Regions from separate parts of the Homo sapiens genome. Here region 1 is linked to region 2. Evidence: fine-mapped expression QTL. Tissue or cell type: blood mononuclear cells. Region 2 holds a variant in brackets; the other region holds the start of a gene. All regions are shown on one strand. Distances are from middle to middle.

What was found. PIP is the estimated chance that this variant, and not a neighbour inherited with it, causes the effect.
Region 1: STXBP2 starts here. The variant in region 2 is the best candidate, but not a certain one, in a credible set for the expression of STXBP2 in blood mononuclear cells (TOPMed, PIP 0.55).

What each region holds. Positions count from the first base shown.
Region 1 is chr19:7,635,530-7,639,529 of GRCh38, reverse strand. It overlaps STXBP2 (syntaxin binding protein 2), which reads right to left and starts at 2,420. Exons shown (of 19, transcript NM_006949.4): 1 at 2,344-2,420; 2 at 755-804; 3 at 430-511. The coding sequence starts at 2,380. It also overlaps a transcript of PCP2 not described here. RefSeq lists enhancers at 1,291-1,817, 1,818-2,346, 2,347-2,874 and a silencer at 2,313-2,602.
Region 2 is chr19:7,612,917-7,617,430 of GRCh38, reverse strand. CAMSAP3 (calmodulin regulated spectrin associated protein family member 3) reads right to left here. Exons shown (of 17, transcript NM_020902.2): 11 at 4,268-4,514; 12 at 2,109-2,248; 13 at 1,712-2,013; 14 at 809-908; 15 at 1-105. Among named protein-coding and RNA genes, the nearest start is that of MIR6792, 2.3 kb to the left of the region's middle. The variant G/A (reference allele first, on the strand shown) is at 2,586.

The sequences.
Region 1 (4,000 bases), 22 kb before region 2:
AATTTACAGACAGGGAGACTGAGGTTCTGAGAGGACAGGCTCCCTCAGCACCTATCCCTCAATGGCAAAGTGACTGGGACACCACCTGGGGTCACCCATAGAAGGCTCTGCATTCTTGGGACCCCACATCCAGAGTCCACCCTGGGAGTCCCACACAGGGCTCCACGAGGGAGCTGCACGGTCAGGAAGGGGCTGCAGCCAGGGAGTGCTGCAGGGGAGGCCTGCAATCCATGGGCTCCCGCAGTCAGCTTGCAAGGTTTAAGAATGGATTTGGTCACATGATCCGGGCTGTCCGTGCAGGGAGCTGCGTACTTGGGAGTTCTGGACGATTTGAGGGGATCCTACACTCAAGGGCTGAACCCTGGGAGAGGGGCACAGTCAGGGGTTCCCACGCTCAGGTCCCATCTCACTGGGGACGCGTTCACTCACTGGTGATGCCCTCAGCCAGGATATCTGACATTTTGCAGCAGGAAGACAAGATGCGCATGCTTGGGTGATCCATGATAAGCACCTGTCCAGATGGATGGACAGATGGATGGAGGAGCAGGCGGAAGAGGCCACAGCTGGCCCCAGAAGGGGCCAAGGCAGTGGGAGGGGCAGTTTCAAGGGCTGGCTGGGTGGGAGGACCCAGAACCCATTCACCCAACTCCACCCATGTGGACAGGCAGTTCTTGGGGGTCCCACATTCAGGGTCTTCCCCATAGGCCTGATGATGAGCTGCCTCTGGGTACCCAGCCATCTGCCTCACCCCTACCTTCCACTCCCCATCCTTCTTGACACTCCGAATAACTCCGCTCAGAATTTCTGCAGGGAAGGGAGGGGAGGGGTCAGAATGCTGGTTCTCTGGTCCCACCACTGCCCCAAGCCTTCTCAGCCTTGGGGCTGAACCCCCATCTTAATTCCCATTTACTTTTTTTTTTTTTTTAAGAGAGGAGGATCTCACTCTGTCACCTAGGCTAAAGTGCAGTGGTGTGATCATAACTCACTGCGGCCTCCAACTCCTGGGCTCCAGCGATCCTCTTGCCTCAGCCTCCCGAGTAGCTGGGACTACAGGTGCATGTACCACCCACAGCTAATTTATTTTTATTTCTGTATAGATGGGGTCTCGCTATGTTGCCCAAGCTGGTCTCAAACTTTTGGCCTCAAGCAGTCCTCCTGCCTCGGCCTCCCAAAGTGCTGGGATTACAGGTGTGAGACACGGCACAGGAATCATTTATTTTTAGCCCCCAGTTCTGCAAATTGGCTTCTGGGGTCACCCCCAATTTACAGACAGGGAAACAGATTCTTAGGCAACATGTAACTCACCTACGCATCCTGAGTGTCTAAGTGGCAGAGTGCTGGGGCAAAAGGTGCCACTCGATAAACATGTTTTAGGTGAATGAAAAGAGGAGAACCGGGATCATCTACAGCTCTATCTGCCTCTAGCGCCAGGCTCTCGGCTTCCCCACCTGCTACCTCAAGTATTCCTGCTGTGAGGGTTTCAGCCAGTCCCCCCAACCTGGTCTAAAATGTAGGACCCCTGGTTCCCAGCTCTGAGGCATGCCTAGCTGAGGCTATCCCACTGACCTCCGGTCTCAGTTTCCTCATCTGTAAAATGGAATCACTTTTTTCTAATCTCCCCCAATTAAAGGGGTTTGAGCTACAGACCGCCCTGCCTAGAGGAGAGAGTGGAGAGAAGTAACGGGGTGGCCCCGCCCAGCCACGTCCACTGTGTCATGTCCACTGTTATCAAGACGGCCAGGGCGGAAGGAGCAGCTGAGGCCGGAACTCCCCGGGGTGGAGGAAGAGGCGCCCTCCACCCTTCCCCCAAGAACCGGGGCCGGTGAGGCCTGGACGCCTGCGTCCTCCAGCTGCAAGGCGCTCCTGGAAATGGGGCAAGGAGGAAGACATCCCCTACACCACCCCTGTGGGGCCTGGACACGTCCCCTGAGCGCTCACAGCACCTAGGGTCGCTGACCAGAGCCCTAGGAGGCCCCAAGAATCCAGCCCCTGAACTTTGCCCGGCTTAAGAGATCCTAGAGTGTGGGCATCCAGCTGTGCCCTCCTCCCCCGGCAGGCACCCTAGGAGGCCCAGGAGTCCGGGCCCCAGCCTCCGCCACACTCTACCCGTCCCCTTTGGGTCCCCGGAGTCCGGCCCCCCAATTTTGTTCTGTTCTGGCACCGGAGAGCAGGGGCGTCCAGCTGGGAACCCGTCCCCGCCCGCCCCCTCGAGGGTCAGGTGCTCGGACGCCCAGCCCGGCCCCCAACTCCCAGCCGCCATGAAACCCAGGATCCCAGAGCCCGTGCGTCCCCGACCCCCGTCCCACACCGGACGCCAGAGCCCGGCCCCGGAGAGGCACTCACTTTCCCCCACCACCGCCTTCAGCCCCGAGGGCGCCATCTTCCCCGAGGGGCGCCGCCGCCGCTTCCGGGTGTGTCCCAAGGTGGGGGCGTGGCCCCGCGCGTCACCCACGTGGACCCCGCCCCGCGGGCCCTGTCCCCGCCCCCTGCGCACCTGGCCCCTCCCCGCCGTCGGTTCTCGCCCAGGCCCAGGAAGTTGAGTCCCTGGCGGGGAGGACGGGCAGGTGCGTCCGCGCTGCCGAGCACGAAGTCGCTGGAGGTGCACACCTCGACGACACGCTCACAGATGGGAGTTCAGACACACACTTCCTGGCTTGCGTGCGAAGCAGGATCGCAGGGCAATAATCCCTCCATCTTCCCCGGGAGGTTCTGTGCCTGCAAGATACACGGCACCCACTCGATGCCACCGGGCCGCCACTGTCTGGGCCTGGGATCTTGACCCACTTGCCTTCTGTACTTCAGGGTTTAGAGGCAGCAGCAGCAGCAGCAGCCGTCTTGGATAACTTTTGATGGATTCAGGAGGCCTGGAGACCTCTTGTGTGCAGGCACCTGGACATAATTTTCATTCAGTCCTGCCCAATGTTCCGACCTGGACTGCGGTGCCGACGAGGAAACCGAGGCTTAGCGGGATCCCTAATCCAAGGCCACGACGAGTGAGCCTGCTGGGTTCAAGCCAGGAGCCTGTCCCCAGGGGGCATTTGTCACAGCCTTACCCTCTTCCGGGAGGCGCAACGCTTACCCTCGTGGACCAACAATCGAATTAACATGCTGATACACACATGGGGTGAGTGACGCCCTCAAATGCTTGCAAACACAGACACACACTCGGAATTTCAGAAGCTGCTTCTGCTGTGTGTCCTGTCGCTTGGAAGGCACAGCCCCAGCAGCACCCATACAAAATGAGGTCTCCGATTTAAGGTGCGAGGTATGTGTGCAAACAGACTCTTGCTGGTCTGAGCTGGTTCCTTCGCTCGGCCGTGTTGATGAAGGTACCAAGCCCCCTGCCACTTACATGGGACATAGGGAGTGAATCAGACCCGAAGGTCTGGGGGAGATAGGAAAGGATCCATGCTGCCCTAAAGGAAATAAACTAATGTGACAACAAGTGCCACAGAAGGTAGGGGTGGGAGGGGACTTTACTGAGGATGACCCCCGAGGGCCTCTCTGAAGAAGCAGCCTTTTGACATTATCCCTAAATGGATTCTAGAAGCAGCCACACAGCATGTCCAGGTAGAGAAGGGAGGAGCCCCGAGCTTAAGAAGGCTGGAGGGTGGGGGCAGCAGGGGCCAGACTTCTGTAGGACAAGGTCAGACTGACCCATCCCAGTGCCAGGATGCAGGACTTTCAGTGCTAAAAATAGGACAGTCACAGGCAAACCAGGACGGTTGGCAACCGTAGGTAGGAGTTTGAGCTATTTCTTCCTTTCCTTTCCTTTTCCCTTCCTTTCTTCCTTCTTCTCCCTCCTCCCCATTTTTGTTTGTTTTTGTTTTGTAAAGAGACGGGTCTCGCTCTGTTGCTCAGGCTGGAGGGCAGTGGCACGATCATAGCTCACTGCAGCCTCGACTTCCTGAGCTCAAGGGATTCTTCCACTTCGGCCACCCAAGTAGCTGGGACTACAGGTGCACGCCACCGTGCCCGGTTGATTTTGTTGTTGTTGTTA
Region 2 (4,514 bases):
TCGGGCACTGACGCTGGGGAGGAGGCATTGCTGCCATTTTCCCAGTCCCGTTCGCGGCTTCCAGGCAGGCGGCTTGGGGACATGAGACCTGACGGGGAGGGAGCCCTGCAGTGGGAGAAGGATGGGATGGAGGTGGGGTCAGGATGGGATGGAGGTGGGGTCAGAGATGGGAAGCTTCCCTATGTGCAGAGGGGCCAAGGAAAATAAGGGCCACGGCTGGGCATCGTGGCTCATGCCTGTAATCCCAGCACTTCGGGAGGCCAAAGCGGGCAGATCACTTGAGGTCGGGAGTTCGAGGCCAGCCTGGCCAACATGGTGAAACACCGTCTCTACAGGCACGGGTAACCCCAGCTACTCAGGAGGCTGAGGCACGAGAATCACTTGCACCCAGGGGGCGGAGGTTGCCGTGAGCCAAGATTGCGCCACTGCACTCCAGCCTGGGCGACACAGCAAGACTCCCTCTCAAAAAAACAAAAAAAAAAAAAAAAAAAAAAAAGGCGGGCCACACACACTGCAGAGGAGGCGGTATACACTGCACACCCTCCCAAGTCCATGCAGTGCCCCGTGCTGTCCTCCTCCCACAGGAACACCTGGCACTCAAGTGCACTGAGGCACATGCTTGAGTCCTGTCTGCCAGGTACAGACTATGCCCCATGCACACGTGCCCACACGCGTCCCTCCATCTCTTCATGGCGTATCCATAAACTCGAGCCATACCGCCCTCTAGGTTCACCCAGATGCCCACACACCTCCCAGGCTCTGGGAAGCCACCCGGCATACGAACCCCGCCTGTGCGGGCTAAACTCACCGAGACGTGGGCCTCTTCACCCCGAGGTTATTGTGGGCCTCGTTGGCCACAGTGGACAGTGACAGGGTGGACTGGGAATAGATTTTGCTCAGCCGAGAGCCTGGGGACAGAGATTGCAGGTCAGTGCCCACCAGAAGCCCCTGCCCTCCACAACACCCGGTCCAGCAGGCTGTGGGGGGAACACAGGAGGAGTCAGTCCTGCCCAAGACCCCTCGGCCCTCTGCAGCACCCCTATGGGGGGACCCCTCTATGAGGGAGGATGCTTTGCCCAGCAGGCAAGTGGGGAGCAGCACTGGGTCAGCCCCTACTGGCAACGCCTCACCCCAAACATACTCCCAAAGGTTCCTATCCATGAAGCCACAGAAGAAAGACCCCTCATCCCACTGCACCCCACATCCCTATGGAAGTCTTTTTTTTTTTTTTTTGTCTTATTTCTGAGACGGAGTCTCGCTCTGTTGCCCAGGCTGGAGTACAGTGGTGCAATCTTGGCTCACCGCAACCTCCACCTCCCAGGCTCAAGCGATTCTCCTGCCTCAGTCTCCCAAGTAGCTGGGACTACAGGCATGCCATATGCCCGGCTAATTTTTGTATTTTTAATAGAGATGGGCTTTCACCATGTTGGCCAGGCTGGTCTCAAACTCCTGACCTCAGGTGATCCGCCCGCCTCAGCCTCCCAAAGTGCTGGGATTACAGGCGTGAGCCACCGCGCCCGGCCCCCTATGGAAGTCTTTACCCAAGAGACAGTGTCCAACCCCACCTGAGGCCCCCTGTCACCCCACATACCCGCCCCCTCCCGGCACCCCTGCTTACATCTCCCTCCCCCTCCCCCCTTACCCATGGGGGCCTCACCCAGTGAGCCCCGGAAAGGGCACTGGGCAGGCCCCGTCCCCCAAGGGTCCTCACCCAGCAGGCCGCGGGCTGGGCTTCGTGCCAGGGCTGAGTCGTCACAGCAACCCGAGCGAGGCCGGGTGGCCCTCCGCCCGCCCCGACCTGGACCCCCGGACCCCGCAGCCCGGGGCCGCAGCACCTTATCGAGGTCGTCCATCAGCTTCAGCTGGGCCCGGCGCTCGTACTCCTGCCGCGTGAAGTCCCCCTTCCGGGGGCCCACCTCCTCCTCGGCTGGAGCCCGGGCAGCAGGGGCTGGAGTCGCCATCGGGACTGCGGACACAAGCGGGGCTGGGCCCGGGGCCTCCTCTTGGGCCAGCCTGCAGATCACAGGGAATCGGCATCAGAACCGCTCACGGGGTCCGCGGTGGCAGACAGGCCAAGGAGCGGGCGTCCCGGGCAGGCCCGGCCTCACCTCGCGGCCTCCTCCCTCCGCTGTTCCTTCTCCACCTCCTGCCACTGCTTGCGCCGCCGCGCCTCCTCTGCTCGCCGCTGCTGCCGCTCCAGCAGGCTGGCCCGCTTTTGGGCCATCTCGTCCTCAGGCTTGTCTTCATCCTGGGGACAGACGCCGAGTCCAGCCAGCCACCCCCTCCCCCAACATGGCTGGAGGCCCATCTTCCCTCCACCCAGCCTGCCCGCCACCCACCTGTGCTTTTGTTTTCATCATTGTTCTAAATGCACTTAGTTGGTGCCTACTGTATGCACAGCCCCACACTAAGTACTGGGACACAACAGGGATGGGATACACTGGGTGCCGCTCACACACACACTGCTTAACCCAACGGGGAAGACAAAAGCAGCAGACAGCAGTGAGTGCCAGCAAAAGCTCGTGTTGGGCACAGACACTCTACACTGCGGGAGGACCCCGGCCTGGCCTGGAGACACCCAGGAA[G/A]GCTTCCCAGAGGAAGTACCCTGTAGAATGATCAGGATTTAACTAGGTGGGCGTACAGAGCAGAGCGTTCCAGGCAGAGGGGACAGCTAGTGCCGAGGCCCTGAGGCTGGAGCAAACCTACTGGGGGGCACGGAAGTACAAGGGGGCCAGTGTGGCTGGGACACAGAGCTGAGGACAGTGGCGCAGGACTAAGTCAGAAGTGAGTACAGGCCAGACGCGGTGGCTCACACCTGTAATCCCAGCAGTTTGGGAGGCCAAGGCAGGTGGATCACTTGAGGTCAGGGGTTCGAGACCAGCCTGGAGAAACCCTGTCTCTACTAAAAATGCAAAAATCAGCTGGGCGTGGTGGCATGCTCTTGTAGTCCCAGCTACTCAGGAGGGTGAGACAAGAGAATCACTTAAACCCAGGAGGTGGAGGTTGCAGTGAACCGAGATCATGCCACTGCACTCCAGCCTGGGCCACAGAGCGAGACTCTGTCTCAAAAAACAAAAAACAAAAGAAAACAAAACAAAAAAAAAAAATGAAAAGGAAGTCCTCCCCAGGGCTTTGGGCTGTGCTCACTTTTTTTTTTTTTTTTTTTTTTTTGAGATGGAGTCTCGCTCTGTTGCCCAGGCTGGAGTGCAGTGGCACGATCTAGGCCCACTGCAAGCTCCACCTCCTGGGTTCACGCCATTCTCCTGCCTCAGCCTCCTGAGTAGCTGGGACTACATGCGCCCGCCACCACGCCAGCTAATTTTTTGTATTTTTAGTAGAGACGGAGTTTCACCATGTTAGCCAGGATGGTCTCGATCTCCTGACCTCATGATCCGCCTGCCTTGGCCTCCCAAAGTGCTGGGATTACAGGCATGAGCCACTGCGCCCGGCCACCCTGGGGAGGACTTTCATTCTAAAAGCAAGGGTAAGGGGAGCAGTCAAAATCCCCGACCACTCAGTGCAAAATGGCCCGGGATGGAGGCAGGCAGCAGAGGCCAGTCAGGTAACCCTAGGTGTCCCCGGCTGGGAAAGCCATGGGAATGGAGAGACAGTGGACACAGGGCAGGGCCAGGAAAGGGGTGGTAGGAGCGTGCTGGGGGCGAGGGGGTGAAGGAGAGGATGAGCAAGGAGGTGCGCTGAAGATCCTGGTCCTGTCCGTCTATCTGTCCATCACCCACCCACCCATGCAACCAGCCATTCATCCATCTGTCTATCCATGACTCCTCCCTGTTTCTCCACCCCTCCCCACATCTATCTATCCCCCTTGTCCGGCCACCCATACCTTGTTTGGGAGGGACATGACTGGGTCAGCCCCCACTGGAAACCCCTCACCCCCAAACATACCCGAGGGCCTCACTCATTAAGCCACAGGGGGAGGACCTCTCACCCCACTGCACCCCCACAGCCCCTTGTGGAAGTCCTTACCCAACAGACAGGGTCAAATCCCATCTGAGGCCCCTGTCACCCCACATACCTGCCCCCCACCGTGCAAATGTCCCTTTCCCCCCTCTCCCACCCATGGAGGCCTTACCCAGCCACTCACACCTGTTCTGTCCATTCATACCTGGCTCCCCATCTATCCCCCACCCGCCCACCCATCCTTCAGTAAAGCCCTATTCATCCAATAGTGGGTTTGTCCACCTCCCCCCGCCCCCACCCGCCCCCGCCCCAGGCCCAGGACCCTCCAGCCACCTGCTCGGGGACTCACCTTGTAGAAGAACCCCAGCCCCACCCGGGGCTCCCCCTCCGAAGACGCCTCCTCCTCCAAGGAATCCTCAGCACCAGCGGGGCTCCCGTCTCCCTCGTCCTCGGCGGCGGGATCTGCCAGGCTGCCCAGCGGGATCTCGATGAGGCCCGGCCGGGCGGCTGGCTCCTCGGGGGGCGTCTCCTCCGCCAGGAGGATGGAAGAGCGCGTCTGCACGGGCACCTGGCTCGGCGAGAACTTGCGCAGGTGG